Linked DNA regions of Homo sapiens. The protein of the gene in region 2 interacts with the protein of the main gene of each other region in a pairwise test. Each region holds a gene or a part of one and is shown on either strand. Other genes may lie near its edges.

What was found. The genes of interacting proteins can lie anywhere in the genome.
Region 1: the proteins of PRPH (region 2) and RNF183 interact in binary tests that used the Homo sapiens proteins (3 or more experiments, as listed by UniProt).

Annotation. Positions count from the first base shown.
Region 1 is NC_000009.12:113,300,368-113,307,618, forward strand, and holds the start of RNF183 (E3 ubiquitin-protein ligase RNF183), read right to left. Parts: upstream 3,010-7,251; 5' UTR 2,689-3,009; intron 2,683-2,688; exon of another isoform or gene 1,947-2,682; 5' UTR 1,828-1,946; exon of another isoform or gene 1,385-1,827; 5' UTR 1,305-1,384; exon of another isoform or gene 1-1,304. UniProt on the Homo sapiens protein: Acts as an E3 ubiquitin ligase catalyzing the covalent attachment of ubiquitin moieties onto substrate proteins. Triggers apoptosis in response to prolonged ER stress by mediating the polyubiquitination and subsequent proteasomal degradation of BCL2L1.
Region 2 is NC_000012.12:49,290,272-49,298,161, reverse strand, and holds the start of PRPH (peripherin), read right to left. Parts: upstream 3,016-7,890; 5' UTR 2,962-3,015; coding exon 2,417-2,961; exon of another isoform or gene 1,985-2,416; coding exon 1,924-1,984; exon of another isoform or gene 1,731-1,923; coding exon 1,635-1,730; exon of another isoform or gene 1,578-1,634; intron 1,447-1,577; exon of another isoform or gene 1,274-1,446; coding exon 1,106-1,273; exon of another isoform or gene 1,015-1,105; coding exon 889-1,014; exon of another isoform or gene 806-888; coding exon 585-805; exon of another isoform or gene 486-584; coding exon 436-485; intron 205-435; coding exon 125-204; intron 1-124. UniProt on the Homo sapiens protein: Class-III neuronal intermediate filament protein.

The DNA.
Region 1 (7,251 bases), on a different chromosome or scaffold from region 2:
ATAGACATTGTCTTTGACCTCATGACATTTAGAGTGTAGTGAGGCAAAAAGACATTTAATGAATAATGGGCAATAAATAAATACACAATTTTAATGGTTGTTAATAAAGGGCAAAAAGGAAAATGGGCTTCGGGTGCTTGGTGGCTGCTCCCAATGAGACCACCAGAGAAGGTTTCTGCAAAGAGATGACAGAAGAGCTGAGACCAAAGTATATAGGAATCCAGCCACGCACAGTGGAGGAAGAGCGTTGCAGGCCCAGGGAACAGCATGTGTGGCCCCGAGGTGAGAAAAGCTCTTCCAATTTGAGAAAGTGAAAGGAGCCCAGGGTGATCAAGGTGTGGTGACCGGAGTAGGCAAGGTGGGAGGGTATAGTACTCGGGACCTGTGAACTCAGGAGCTCATCTGGATTTTATTCCAGGGGTGAGCGGTAGGGTAAGGTACCTGATCCTATTTCCATTTTTAAAACACCATTCTAGCTGCAGAGCAGAGGACAGGCTGAGAGGGATAAGATCGGGAAGGGAACACCCGTTCGGGCTGCAGCAGTGTGGCTCAGGCGTGTGATGGTGGTGCAGGTTAGGCAGTGGCAGAGGAGATAAAAGGGGATGGGATAAGTGATATCTTTGGGGACAGAATCAAAGCCACTTCCCAAGAAGCAGTGGAGTTCTAGGGATCCAGTTGTAGTTTCTGTCAAGGTTCATGATGCCAGATCCATGGCTATTTAGGGCTGTGATTCCAGTTGAATTGCTTGACCTCTCTGTGCCTCTATTTCTCCTTGTGCAAAGGAAGCCAAAACTAGTAAAGCTTTTAGTTAGAGCCCAGCACCCAGTAAAGACCACAAAGCAATGCATGACCTAAAAATGGGACTATGTTCTCAGAAACACATCGTTGTATGAACAGCACAGAGAGTATTTACACAAACCTAGATGGTAGAGCCTGCTACATGCCTAGGCTATACGGTCTAGCCTGTTGCTCCTAGGCTACAAACCCATACAGCTTATTATGTTCTGAACACTGTAGGCAATTGTAACACAATGATAATTGCGTGTGTCTTTCAACATAAACTTAGAAAAGGCAAGGTAAATATATGGTATTATAATCTTAGGTGGCCACCATCACATATGTAATTCACTGTTGATCAAAACATTGTTATGGATATATGAGGCAGTTGAAATTATTAATGCAAATGGATTTGAGAGAAAGGAAGGGTCAAGGTTGATTTCAAAGCCGTGACAAAGTCCTCTGCATCAAGCTTTGAGAAGCCCCTGAATCCCAGAGTGTGTTAGAAGCAGATCTTTAATACTTACCAGAGGCCGTAAACTGTATGTAACCTTGACTCATCATTTCCCCCACTGGGAATCGATTCCACGGAAACCATCAAGGACTTCTGCAAAGATGTGAGTAAAGAGATGCCCATCCAGGCGCTGGTTTAACGGTGACGTATGGAGAACTACGTCATCATCCAGTAATAGGACATTGATTAAGTAGATTCTGCTCCATCCATAGGAAGAGATATTATGCAGCCTTTAATATGATGTGGTAAAACTATTAATATGGATATATACCTAGGATATAATGTCATTAAGCGAAAAAGAACCAGCAACAAAACCATATTACCATATAATCCAATTTCCAAAAGTGTGTGTGCAATGGAAAAAATGTCTGGAGAGATAAACAACCAGATATTAGCAGTGGTTATCTCTGGGGGCAAGATTATAAGTTTTTTTTTTTTTTTTAATTCTCTTACCTGAAAATTCTAACTTTACTCCATCCAGTAAGCTTGTATTACTACACGTCAAGATCTCCTGTTTCCCCCCAAATCAGACCTACCTTCTCTGAAGTTCCATGGCCAGAACTGTAAAAGGCTGTCCAAGAGGAGGAAGCATCATTATTGCCTGGATCTTTATCTGTGCTGCTCTCCCAGGGATCCACTGCTGTTTCAGGATCAGCTGGGGAGAGATTCTGGCCATGTATCACCTCCACCCCAAGCCAGGACATCTCAGCTACAGTAAATCCTAAACACCGCCCCAAAGTCATCTCCTTGGTCTATGAACAAGTCATCGCCAAATATCAATTGTCCCCAGCATCACTCCATTGTTTTCAACCAAGAACTGGCATTTCCATAGCACTTCACAGTTTACAAAGGGCCCTGGCCCTTGCTAAGATCTAAGTGTGGTGATCCATCTAGATAGGTTACTAGCCTTTTGGGATTTTTTGTTGTTGTTTGCAGAAAGCCATTTGATACTCTAAAACCACCCTGTGAGAGAGGCTGAATGGGGAGTAGAAAGGTGCCGGCTTTGGAACCAGATTTGGAACAATTTGTCTTGGACAAATGGCTTAACCTCTCTGAACTTCATTTTCCTCTGTAAAAAAGGCTAATCATCCCACTCCTACAAGGTTGCTCTGGGGAAGGAATAGTCTATACGGTGCCCAGTAGAATACGGAAGGCGCTCAATACAGAGTTAGCATGATTATTTTTAGACCCATTTTCTAGATGGGGAAGCCAAGGCTCAGAAGGGTGAGGCAACTTGCCGAAGTCTTCCCAGCTAAAGAGTGGCTGAGTTTGAAAGATGAACCCAGTAGCCTGCCCTCCCAGGCCAGAGTTCACCTGTCGCGCGCTGCACGGCTGCTGCCTCTCTGGACTCTGGAGCCCTGTGACCCGTCCCTCCGCGACCCTCTCTGTCTCCTTACCTGCTCCCTCGGAGCCGCCTCCTCCGCCTCCGTTCGTGCAGCCCTGCACGCATGTGCTTTGTTTTCTGACTTCCCAGGCCCGATTTCCAGGTAGCGTGGGTGGGTCTTATTTGCATAGGTCTTAGCAGCGTTTGGCCAGCTCTCGCTGTTTCAGGTTTTCTTCTTCCTTCTGGTGACTTTGGACCTCCTGTACACCCTGGAAGCTTTGGTTGCTTTGTCTTTCTCCTGTGAGTCACTCTGGCTTTTTCTCTGAGGGGATCAAGTGCGCTCATCCTTGCAGGCCTCTGTTCTGGGTCCGATTGATCTCCTGCCATCCCCTCGGATTCCACTGTCCTCTGTGCGCTGACCTGCCTCGACTCCTGGCTTCTGCCGAGATGGATCCTTCCCTATGCTGAGTCCCTGTAACCAAAATACAGATAGCTCTTGCAAAATACTGACAAAAGCGGCCACTAATACAGCAGAAAAATAGTCGGGAGACGGTTGAGCGTCTGCCTGAAGAGCCAGGGTTCTCAAGCAAGGCACACTTCTAGGTCAGAGTTCAGCCCTCACTGAGAATCCAAACTCCGTTTAACTACCGATGGAGACTTGAGCAAATTAATTAACTTCTGCCAGCCTCAGTTTCCTCACCTGAAAATGGCCATAATAACCTACCTACTTGATCTGTAGATTAAATGAGGTAATACGTGTCGAGATCGCGTAATAACACAGGGCCTGGCAGACAGTAACTCGCTAAATGTTAACCAGAACTATTATTGTTATAACCGGTCTGTTCACGTGGCCCATCTTTTGTTCCCGCTCAAATTCTTTTTGTACCTATGGTCCTCTTTTCTTTCTCTCTCTCTTTCTTTCTTTTTTTTTTTCTTTCTTTTTTTTTTTTTTTTTTAAGACGTAGTTTTGCTCTGTCGCCCAGGCTAGAGTGCAGTGGGGCGATACTGGCTCACTGTAACCCCCACCTCCCTGGTTCCAGCAATTCTCCTGCCACGGCCTCCCGAGTAACTGGGACTACAGGTGCGCGCTACCATGCCCGGCTAATTTTTACATTCTTAGTAGAGACAGGATTTCGCCTTGTTGGCCAGGCTGGTCTCAAACTCCTGACCTCAGGTGATCCACCTGCCTCGACCTCCCAAAGTGCTGAGATTACAGGCATGAGCCACCGCGCCTGGCCCCTTATTTCTTTACTGACATTTTCAGCCATACTTGAGAAATAAACAAGTAAATAAATGTATCTGCTTGGTGATGTAATCAAATGCCCTAGTCCCCGCATTTTGTGTTTTTTTACATTAATTTTTATGTATTGATTTATTTTGAGACAGAGTCTCACTCTATCATCCAGGCTGGGGTGCGGTGGCACGATCACAGCTCACTGCAGCCTCAACCTCCTGGGGTCAAGCAGTCTTCCCACCTCCGCCTCCTGAGTACCTAGGACTACAGGTGCATGCCACCGTGGCTGGCTAATTTTTGTATTTCTTGTAGAGATGGGGTTTCTCCAGGTTGCCTAGGCTGGTCTCAAACTCCTGGGCTCCAGCAATCCACTTGCCAAAAGTGCTAAGATTACACTTGAGCCACCGTGCCCACATTTGATTTTTAAATAGGTAATATATTTACATGGTTGAGCATGTGAATGGTTTGATTTCACAGTGAAAACTGTCTCTTCGCAGCCACCTAGTTTCCCTGGAAATCAAAGTATTATACTATCAGTTTGTTGTGTATCTTTCCAAAGATGTTTTATACATACACAAACAGCATGTCCATGGCAAAACATCTATGTATTCCTTTACCTCCTTTTTACACAAATGTGCATATTATGTACACTGTTCTGCATTTTTCTTTTTTCATTTGATGATGTATTTGAGATATCATTCTGTATTAGTACATAAAGACCTTCTTCGGTTTTTGGCCCAGCGCTGTGACTCACACCTGTAATCCCAGCACTTTGGGAGGCCAAGGCGGGTGGATCACTTGAGGTCAGGAGTTCAAGACCAGCCTGGCCAACATGGTGAAACCCCGTCTCTACTAAAAATACAAAAATTAGCCGGCGTCATGGTGCACACCTGTAGTCCCAGCTACTCAGGAGGCTGAGGCAGGAGAATCGCTTGAACCTGGGAGGCAGAGGTTGCAGTGAGCTGAGATTGTACCACTGCACTCCAGCCTGGGCGACAGAGCAAAAAAAAAAAAAGAAGACCTTCTTCGGTTTTTTAATGGTTGTATCAGATTTCATTGAATGGCTGTACCATAAATCACTTCACCAATCCCCTATTGATCTAACCCCCTCATTATAAATATATAAATATTGAATGAAAGAATAATGCAAAAATGCTGATTTTAAGTTAGCCTAGAATTGTGTGAAAATAAAACTGTGGACTTTGGGAAGTTTTAGATCTCTAAAGAAAATGTCTAAGTAATTCTCCTCTTTCTGAGCTGGAGACGAGGTATATGATCACCGATGGCCTCAAAGTTCCTCTCAGCTCTGGAATTCCCTGCTTTTCGGTGTCACTACTGGTTAACTGAGGTTACTGGGGATTCGAGACACTGATTTAGTCCAAAGAACCTGGTTTGTATTTGAGAGTTTGGAAGTCACGCTTTCTGGCTTGGCAACATAAGAAAACATAAAGAAGTTCATCTACTTTGACCTAATCATGTAATTCCCCAGAAGCATCAAAAAGATATATTTTGGTTGAGTGAGGATATTCATTGCAGTTTTATTTTAATCACAAATGATTGAAAACACTCCAAAACCCCATCAATTAGGTGAAAAACTACATAATCATTTAAAATGATATAGAAAGATTTTCATTGACTTTTAAAAATGGTCACAGTATACTGTAAATGGAGGGGGAAAGCAGCTTAAAAATGGTGCATGTTGGCCGGATACGGTGGCTTACGCCTGTAATCCCAGCACTTTGGGAGGCCGAGGCAGGCGGATCACAAGGTCAGGAGTTTGAGACCAGCCTGGCCAATATGTTGAAACCCCGTCTCTACTAAAAAATACAAAAAAAAAAAAAACTTAGCTGGGCGTGGTGGCAGGTGCCTGTAATCCCAGCTACTTGGGAGGCTAAGGAGGCAGGAGAATCGCTTGAACCTGGGAGGCGGAGGTTGCAGTGAGCCGAGATTGCACCACTGCATTCCAGCCCAGGCAACAGAGAGAGAATCCATCTCAAAAAAAACACAAACAAACAAACCAAAACCAAAACAAAACAAAACAAAAAAACGGTGCATGTTGGCTGGGCACATGCCTATAATCCCAGCACTTTGGGAGGCCGAGGTTGGAGGATTGCTTGAGCCCAGGAGTTCAAGACTAGCGACCCCATTGCTACAAAAAATAAAAAAATAAAAAATTAGCTGGGCGTGGTGGCACATGCCTGTTGTCTCAGATACTCAGAAGGCTGAAGTGGGAGGATCACTTGAGCCCAGAAAGTCAAGGCTGCAGTGAGCCCAGATTGCACCACTGCACTCTAGCCTGGGCAACAGAGCAAAGACCCTGTGAAAGATAGAAAAGAAAAAAAGAAAGAAAAGAAGAAAAGAGAGGGAGAAGGAAGGAAGGAAAGAAGAAGGAAGGAAGGGAGGGAGGGAGGAAGAAAGGAAGGGAGGGAAGGAGGAAGGAAGGAAGGGAGGGAGGGAGGGAGGGGAAGGAAAAGAAAAGAAAAGGAAAGAAAGAGAGAATGTAGCATAAGCCAGATTTTGTAAAGCATAATTTATGTATAAAGACTGCAAGACCATGAGGCAAAATGTCACAATTTTATCTCTGGGTGATGGCCACTCATGTTTTCGCTTTCTTCTTGCTTACATTTTCCAAGTTCTCAAATATGTATTACTTTTGTAGTAAGAAAGTTCACTTAGAAAGTAAGTTAAGTCTGAGTTTTCTGCAACCAGGGTATCCAGAACTTAAAAAGATAAGCAGGTAGGGCAGGTAAGAAGTCAGTCATGACATTGTAAGCATTGAAATAAAAATAAAATAAGTCATAGCCAGGCATGGCCTGTAATCCCAGCACTTTGGGAGGCCGAGGCAGGCAGATCACTTGAGGTCAGGAGTTCGAGGCCAGCCTGGCCAACATGGTGAAACCCCGTCTCTACTAAAAATACAGAAATTAGCCAGGCATGGTGGTGGGTGCCTGTAATCCCAGCTACTCTGCAGGCTGAGGCAGGAGAATCACTTGAACCTAGGAGGCGGAGGTTGCAGTGGGCCGAGATCGCGCCATTGCACTCCAGCCTGGGCGACAAGAGCGAAACTCTGTCTCAGAAAAATAAAATAAAATTTAAAAAGTCATGGCTTTTTTCCAGGTCACTAATTGTCTAGTGAGTCTATGCATTATCATAATGTCTGTGGGTGGTCAGGCTAAGGAGTGCTTTGCCAACAGTGAAAAATTTTTCCAGGGAGATACCCGGGAGAGATAGTGAGGCATCTCAGGAACTTGAGAGTTAAACTAATTTATAAAGTTCATGCTTGTGGGGGCAAGATCAGCCATCTGGAAAAGCACCTCACCTAAGCAGTACCTTAGACCCGGGTGAGTGAAGAGTCATGAGACTCGGTGGAGCCCAGCCAATGTCTGGAGCAGAGGCGTGGGG
Region 2 (7,890 bases):
TCTGTCTCCTTCTCTGTCTCTCCCCAAGAATTACCCACCCTAAGTAAGATTAGCGACAGCCAGGCTGGGGCTCAGAAATAATATGGGAAATGGTGGGGTCCTGGCATTAGGGGACCTGCCTCACCTCCCCATTCCGGGTCTCAATGGTCTTGATCAGAACCGTCTTCCGGCTGTGGCTGTCCTGGGGAGGCTCCACCTCAGGCACTGAAGAAAGCAGGATAAAGGGTTCAAGGGGGAAGGCGTGGGAATCTCTCCTCTTAGGCTCCCACTGCTATCCCTGAGGGCAGGGGAGGGGCGGGTTTGAGGAGTAGGGGTGGGTACAGGCCAGGACCCAGAAGTTCCGTGGGGAGAAGAGATCCCTGAGGTGAGCCAGAGCAAGAGCCCGAGGAGGGCAGAAGTGGACAAGGAGAGGTACAGGCTGTAAGCCAGACTCACCAGTCGTCTTTATATTTAAGGAGGCAAAAGAATGGACGGGCACGGAGATCCTAGAGGCGAAGCAAGTTGTCAGCGCCCCTGCCCAGGCCCCGCCCTGCCCGGCCCAGTCCCGACCCCGCCCTGCCCCGCCCCAGCAGCTCCACCCTCACCGGCTCTCCTCGCCCTCCAGCAGCTTGCGGTAGGTGGCGATCTCGATGTCCAGGGCCATCTTGACGTTGAGGAGCTCCTGGTACTCCCTCAGGTGCCGCGCCATCTCCTCTTTTAGCTGTCGCAGCTCCTCCTCGAGCCGCGCAGCGCCCGCCTGGTAGCCCCCCGCCTCCAGGGCGAACTGCTCCTCCAGCTCTCTCAACTGCCTGAGCAGCGCCTCGTTCTGGGGTAGGAGAGTGGAAGGGGCCAGTTGCAGAACATTTCATCGTCCGCTCCCCGGGCCCGAGCGCGCAGCTTCGTACTCACCGTGCCGCGCAGCCCGTCCACCTCGCACGTTAGACTCTGGATCTGGCGTCGGGACTCGTTCATCTCCTGCTTGGCCTGGCGCAGGGCCTCGTGGTTCCGGTTGGCAGCGTCGGACAGGTCCGCGTACTGAGAAGTGGGGGTAACCCAGGCTTTAGTCGGCTGGGACGCGCGACACCACCCCAGCGTCCCGCCTCGCAGGCCCTCCCGGCTCTTGCACCTTGGACTTGTACCACTCCTCCGCCTCCTGCAGGTTCTTCGCGGCGATGCTCTCGTACTGCGCGCGGATGTCCCTCAGCGCTGCCGTCAGCTCGGGCTTCACCGTGGCTTCCACCTCCACCTGCTGCACCTGCTGGCTCTCCACACTCACCTGCAGGTCTCGCAGCTCCTACGGCCGGGAGCAGGCAGAGGATGGACAGCGGCGCAAATTCCACGCGGGCCACGCAGTTCGTGCACAGAAAAGAGAAGAAACGCTTGAACGAACAGAAGTGGGCGCCAGGGAGGGCAGGGCGTACAGCCCTGCGCCCCCGCGGGCGCGAGACCAGAGGCCAGGTTTCGGAGGTACAGCCCCGCTGCCCGCCGCCAGGTGGCGCAAGGGTGGGAGTCTAACCACCTGTAGACTAGGGTGGAGGGGCTGCGTCTACCCAGCATCGTCCTGATCCCCAGGGCGATGCCTCCGCTCCACCCGCCAGCTCCAGCGAGACCACCCCACAACCTCAGAAACCGCCCCTGATACCGGGCCCACTTACCTCCTCGTGCAGCTTCTTGAGGAACTCAATCTCATCCATCAGAGACTCAATCTTGCGCTCTAGTTCCAGGCGGGACAGAGTGGCATCGTCCACGTCCTTCGAGGGGTGGCAGTGGAGGTTCAAGATAAGTTAGGGGCTGCGCAGACCAAGGAAGGACCAGGCCTTCCCTGTCTGCCTCAGGAGGCATCTGGGTTACCCCCTTCTCCCCGCGCCCACCGATGCCACCTCTGGATACTGAGATCGGGGGTAGCGGTGGGGAGGCTGAACTCGGAGAGGGGCTCGGACTCACCTTGCGGAAGAGCACGAGGTTGTGCTCCGCGTCCTCCCGCTTGCGCGTCTCCTCCTCCAACCTGACGGGAAGAGCGTGCAGAGGCTGAACTGCGGGGTCGCCGCCCAGCTCGCACCCCAGACCGCACGCCCCCCAGGATCCGGTTAGAGGCTGTTCTGCTGCCCAGGACTCTAAATGGAGGGCTGAGGCTGTCTAATGGAATTGCCCCGCATTGTCTCTAACGGACTGGGAGCTGAAAAGGGGGTTTCCTCATTACTCAGGGGAGGCACAGATACCCACTTCTCCCACCTCCCCAAACACTCAGAGCAAAGGGGTAGCGGGGGGCACTTGGAGCCCGTGGGCAGGGATGCTGCCCGCACACACCTGGGTTGGTAAGGGGAGCCACACCCTTGGGCTGCTGATGGAGAGGGGAAGCGAGGGGAGGCAAGAGCAGCCGCCTCGACGGCCGCTTCGACCTCGCCTCGACGGCAGCGGCCCAGCCCTGCCCCCTGACCTCTGCTTGAGCGCCGCCAGGTCCTCCGCCAGCCCGTCGCGCTCCACCTGCACCCGGTCACGCTCGCGGCCCAACAGCTCCAGCTCTCGCCGCAGCTCGCGCAGCTCCTGCTGGCACAGCTGGTCGGCGCGCGCCGGCTCCTGGCCCCGGGCTTGGCTCAGCTCCCCGCGCAGGGCCGCGTTCTGCTGCTCCAGAAAGCGTACCTTCTCGATGAAGTTGGCGAAGCGGTCGTTGAGCTCCTGCAGCTCCTGCTTCTCGTTGCTGCGCGTGGCCAGGAACTCCTGGTTGAGGGCCTCGGCCATGGAGAAGTCGAGGCGCTCCGAGGGCAGGCGCAGGAGGGCGCCCGCTCCCGCTCGGGGGCTACGGAAGCTGCCCAGGCGCACCGAGGAGCTCGGGGACGCGGAGCCCAGCAGGCGGCTGCTGGAGAAGCGGGAGCTGGACGAGTAGGAGAAGGCCCCGGGGGATAGTGAGGGCGGTGGACCGAAGGTACGGCGGTATGAGGTGGAGCTGAAGCCGGCCCGGAGGCCCGACGGGTGGTGGCTCATTGCGGCCAAGGATGGGCAGTCACCGTTCGCAGAGCTAGGCCGGGGGCTGGGAAGGAGCCGCAGACCGCTGCGAGGCGGCTTTATAGCCCTGCGGTCTCAGGGGGGGCACGGGCAGCTCCTCCCACTGGCCTGATGGCCCGCTGGAGGGGGGTTGTATGGGGAGGGGGATGCCCCACCCCTGCGGAACAGCAGGAGCGCCTTCCCCTCCCTTCCCTGGTTGCAGGCCTCTACCCACTTGATTGCCCCCTGTTGCCGCTGGGGTGGGGGTCACTTCCTCCCAACAAGCACCCAAAGCTAGAACCTAGGGTAGGAAGGCCTGACTTGAACTAGAGTCCCTGAAAATTGCGAGGTAGAAGGACCTGAAGTTAAAGGGCAGGCTTCTGGCACAGGAGTAGGGAGGAGGCCAGCTGGAGGGAGAGTTGACCTGGCTTAGGCCCCATAGCTAGTGCCTTGACTTGCCCCCTGAAGGCCAGGCTCTATTTTCACCTGCTGTCAGCTACCCCTCCTTCACCACACCCAGAGAGGAATAGGAGACAGGGGCGCAGAGGCAGATCGGGCTGGGGAAGAGCTACTCTCCCTAATCCCCAGGGCCCTGTGAAGGGCTGGTGCCTGGCGCCAGCTCTGCTGCTAATGGGCTGACCAGCCCCCCTCCCCCTCCCCTGAAGACGGCCCAGCAGAGGTTGTCTGCTGATGTTTCAGCCTTAAAGACACAGCCCCCAAACCTAGACCTACCCCGCAACAAGCCCCAATGAGGTGGGTACATCATAGGGGGCTGAGGGTGGCTGGACCCAGCTCTGGATCCCACTCGGGAGGGTCTGCCCCATGCCACGGGCTGGGCTAAGTGGGCCTTTTGTATTCTGTCTTGGTTTACTGGATTCTCCCTCCCCCCAACCCCACACCAATTGCTGCTCAGTCATGGGCTTTACAGGAACCAGAGTGATTCCTGAGGTAGGAAGGGGAGGGGGCTGAGGGGCAACAGCGGCTGCCAAGGCTGAGAGATGGATGGACTGGCAGGAGCTGGTTTCCAGTATTGATGAGTTGCAGGTACCAGGGATGGGTGGGGCTGGATGGGGAAGAGATGGGGAAAGAGAAAGTGCCCATCCCCAGCAGTCTGAAAGAGAGAAGGCCCCAGAACAGGTCCACAAACCTGCGCACGCAAACAGATGCATACACACAGCTTTGTATATCTATGCGCACACACACTACATACACACACATACACACACAATCACACATCCCACCACACCCTCCCCTACTCCAGAGTTAGCGAGAAGGCTGATATCTGGCCTTTGTATGTCAAACAGCTTCCAGAATGCAAGCACAACCTGCCCAGGAGTGGACAGAGGCAGCTCGGATGGTCTGCAGGAGCCGGGTTGCTGAGGTCTGCTGGGTTTGCCAGGAACCATAGGGCTGGGGCTGCTGCTGCTGCTGGGGACTCCAGCGCTGTCCTGTGAGACAGGTCTGCCTCAGATGGGACCTGAGGACAAGAGAGTGCATCTGGGGAAGCAGGTTTCAGGTTCCTGCCTGGATATCTGGCTGGGGGTAAGGAGGGCGGCTCCCTGGCTGGCCAGCTCCTCAGTATTGCAGGGCAGCAGCCCCCTCCCCCCTTTGTGCGTCCTGTGAGATGGGCCAGGGCCAACGCCCTGCTCACGTCCCTACCGCCTTCGTCTCCTTTCCAGGCCCCTCCTTCCTTCCGGGCCATTAGTCTCTCCCTGCACAGCTGCCAGTTCCTTCTCCTTGATGGGTCTGGTTTGGTTGCCAGGGGAGTGGGAAGCGGGAGGAAGGGAGAGATGGGACAGGACGAATAAATGACAGCTTGGCCTCCCCTAACTCCTGGGAATTGGGAGGGGTAGGGTCCCACCCGGGATAGGGCCGGGAGGCTTGGTGGGTGTGAGGAGGGGCTAGGGAAGCCTTGGTGCTTCCTGCCGCAGTCCTGGGCACTGAGCCCCAGCTGCTGTTGGCCTGGAGCCCCATCTATCCCGGATTTGGCCCCACCCTCCAGGAGCAGGGAGCCAGCTCTGCATCAGGAGAGGCGGGCAAGGCCTGGGGAGGACCAGCTCAGGCCCTGTCTACAGGGCACTAGTGGGGGACCCAAGCCTCTGAGAGTAGAGGCTGCTGGGGCTGCAGCTGGGCCTGGGGAGTTCCAGATGGAGTTCCCGTCCTCACCCTGCTTAAGGGCTCCGCTGGCCACCTACATGCCTCGGAGGAGAAGGGACAGAGGGCTGCCACAGCAGGGCTCTGGAGCTGTGGATCAGGCCTGGGTGGGGAACTGCCAGGCAGAAGAGGCTCCTCCCCTAAAGCAGAAGGAGCAGGCCAGCAACTCCAGGCGGAGCAAAGGTAGGCAAAGAGTCTGGGTTAAGAGCCGGGCTCTGGCATCCAGCTGCCACACTTCCCATCTGATCCACCACTCTGTTGTAGAATTTAGGCTCGTCACTACGTCCCTTCATGTCCCTCAAGAAAAGGGAGATAACTAACTGTAGCTTCTACCTCATAGTGTTGTTGGGAGGACTAAAGGAATAAATAAATACATGTGAAGTGCTTAGGACACACATCTTAAAGCCTGAAAATGGAAGCTGGTTTTATTATTGCTATTATTATTAACCTCCAGAGTGATAATGTCAGCCCCAAGAGCAGTGAGAGTCTGGGCTTCTTTTGGACTGTGCCCCTGGTTGCTGAAAGTAGTGCTTGGACCCAAGGCGGAAGAAGCCAAGTCCTCCCTGGCCTCATCCTCCCCTGGTGGACCGGGACTCTGGGCAGATGGTGCAGGTTCATTCATGGCTGCTCACCTTAATTAGCTGTGTGCTTTGGGTTTTCTGAGTGACTTAACCTCTGTTCACCCCATTTTCTTTCTTTCTTTCTTTCTCTCTTTCTTTCTTTTTTCTTCCTTTTTTTTTTTTTGAGACATAGTCTCGCTCTGTCGCCCAGGCTGGAGTGCAGTGGCACGATCTCAGCTCACTGCAAGCTCCGCCTCCCGGGTTCACGCCATTCTCCTGCCTCAGCCTCCTGAGTAGCTGGGATGACTGGCGCCTGCTACCACGCCCGGCTAATTTTTTCATATTTTTGGTAGAGACGGTGCTTCACCATGTTAGCTAGGATGGTCTCGATCTCCTGACCGTGATCCACCTGTCTCGGCCTCCCAAAGTGCTGGGATTACAGGCATAAGCCACCGCGCCTGGCCACCCCATTTTCTTTATCCACAAATGGGAATGATAATAACAGTACTTACCTCATGGTGTTGGGAGGATTAAACGAGTTACCCTCTGTAAAGCACTTGTGCTTGGCACCTAGTACATGCTGTAGAAGTATTTGCCAGTATTCTCATCGCTCCTCCTCCTCCTGCCTCCCTTGGCTGCTCTGATGAAGGCTGGAAGAGAAACAACTATTGCATGTGTTCAGGGGTTTGCAGGGAAGGTGAGTAACGAAGTTTAGGTTACTGGCAAGAGTGCTATTTTTAAATTAAATTAAATTAAATTTTTTTTGAGAGAGAGTCTTGCTCTGTTGCCCAGGCTGGAGTGCAGTGGCATGATCTCAGCTCACTGCAACCTCCACCTCCTGGGATCAAGCGATTCTCCTGCCTCAGCCTCCCGAGTAGCTGGGATTACAGGTACCTGCCACCATGCCTGGCTAATTTTTGTACTTTAGTAGAGACGGGGTTTCATTATGTAGGTCAAGCTGGTCTCGAACTCCTGATCTCAAATGGTCCGCCTGCCTCGGCCTCCCAAAGAGCTGGGATTACAGGCGTGAGCCACCACGCCTGGCCAAGAGTGCTATTAAATGTCAGGCCACGGGCTCAAAGCTGGATTAGGAGGGCATGTAGGCAAGAGAGAGTGGGAGATTGGGAGAGTAAAGAGATCCATGGCTGGCCAAAGAACAGTCATAGAACAAAGACATGCCAGTGGAGCACAGTGGTTTACGCCTGTAATCCCAGCACTTTGGGAGGCTGAGGCGGGCGGATCACAAGGTCAGGAGATCAAGACCATCCTGGCTAACATGGTGAAACCCTGTCTCTACTAAAAATACAAAAAATTAGCCGGGCGTGGTGGCGGGCACCTGTAGTCCCAGCTACTGGAGAGGCTGAGGCAGGAGAATGGTGTGAACCCAGGAGGTGGAGCTTGCAGTGAGCGGAGATCGCGCCACTGCACTCCAGCCTGGGTGACAGAGCGAGACTCCATCTCAAAAAACAAACAAACAAATTAGCCGGGCGTGGTAGCATACGCCGGTAATCCCAGCTACTTGGGAGGCTGAGGAAGGAGAATCTATTGAACCCGGGAGGCAGAGGTTGCAGTGAGCCAAGATCGCGCCACTTCACTCCAGCCTGGGCGACAGAGTGAGACTCTGTCTCAAAAAAAAAAAAAAAAAAAAAAAAAAAAGACATGCTAAGCTCCTCCCAGCCTTACCCTCTGCTTCAGCACATCCCTAATACTTGCATCTGTCAGCTGGGGTCTCTGCCTCTCCGGGTCTAGGATTGACACAAACCTCCACTCCAGGCCAGGCGAAGTGGCTCGCACCTGTAATCCCAGCACTTTGGGAGGCCAAAGCAGGCAGATCGCTTGATCCTAGAAGTTCAAGACCAGTCCTGGGCAACATGGAGAAACCCCATCTCTACAAAACACACAAAAATTAGCCAGGCATGGTGGCATACACCTGTAGTCCCAGCTACTTGGAAGGCTGAGGTGGGAGGCTCACCTGAGCCCAGGAGGTCAAGGCTGCTGTGAACTGTGACTACACCACTGTACTCCAGCCCCAGTGACTGAGATCCTATCTCAAAATAAATAAATAAATAACCAGCCAGGCGCTGTGGCTCACGCCTGTAATCCCAGCACGTTGGGAGGCCGAGGCGGGCAGATCATGAGGTCAGATCGAGACCATCCTGGCTAACACGGTGAAACCCCGTCTCTACTAAAAATACAAAAAAGTAAACCGGCATGG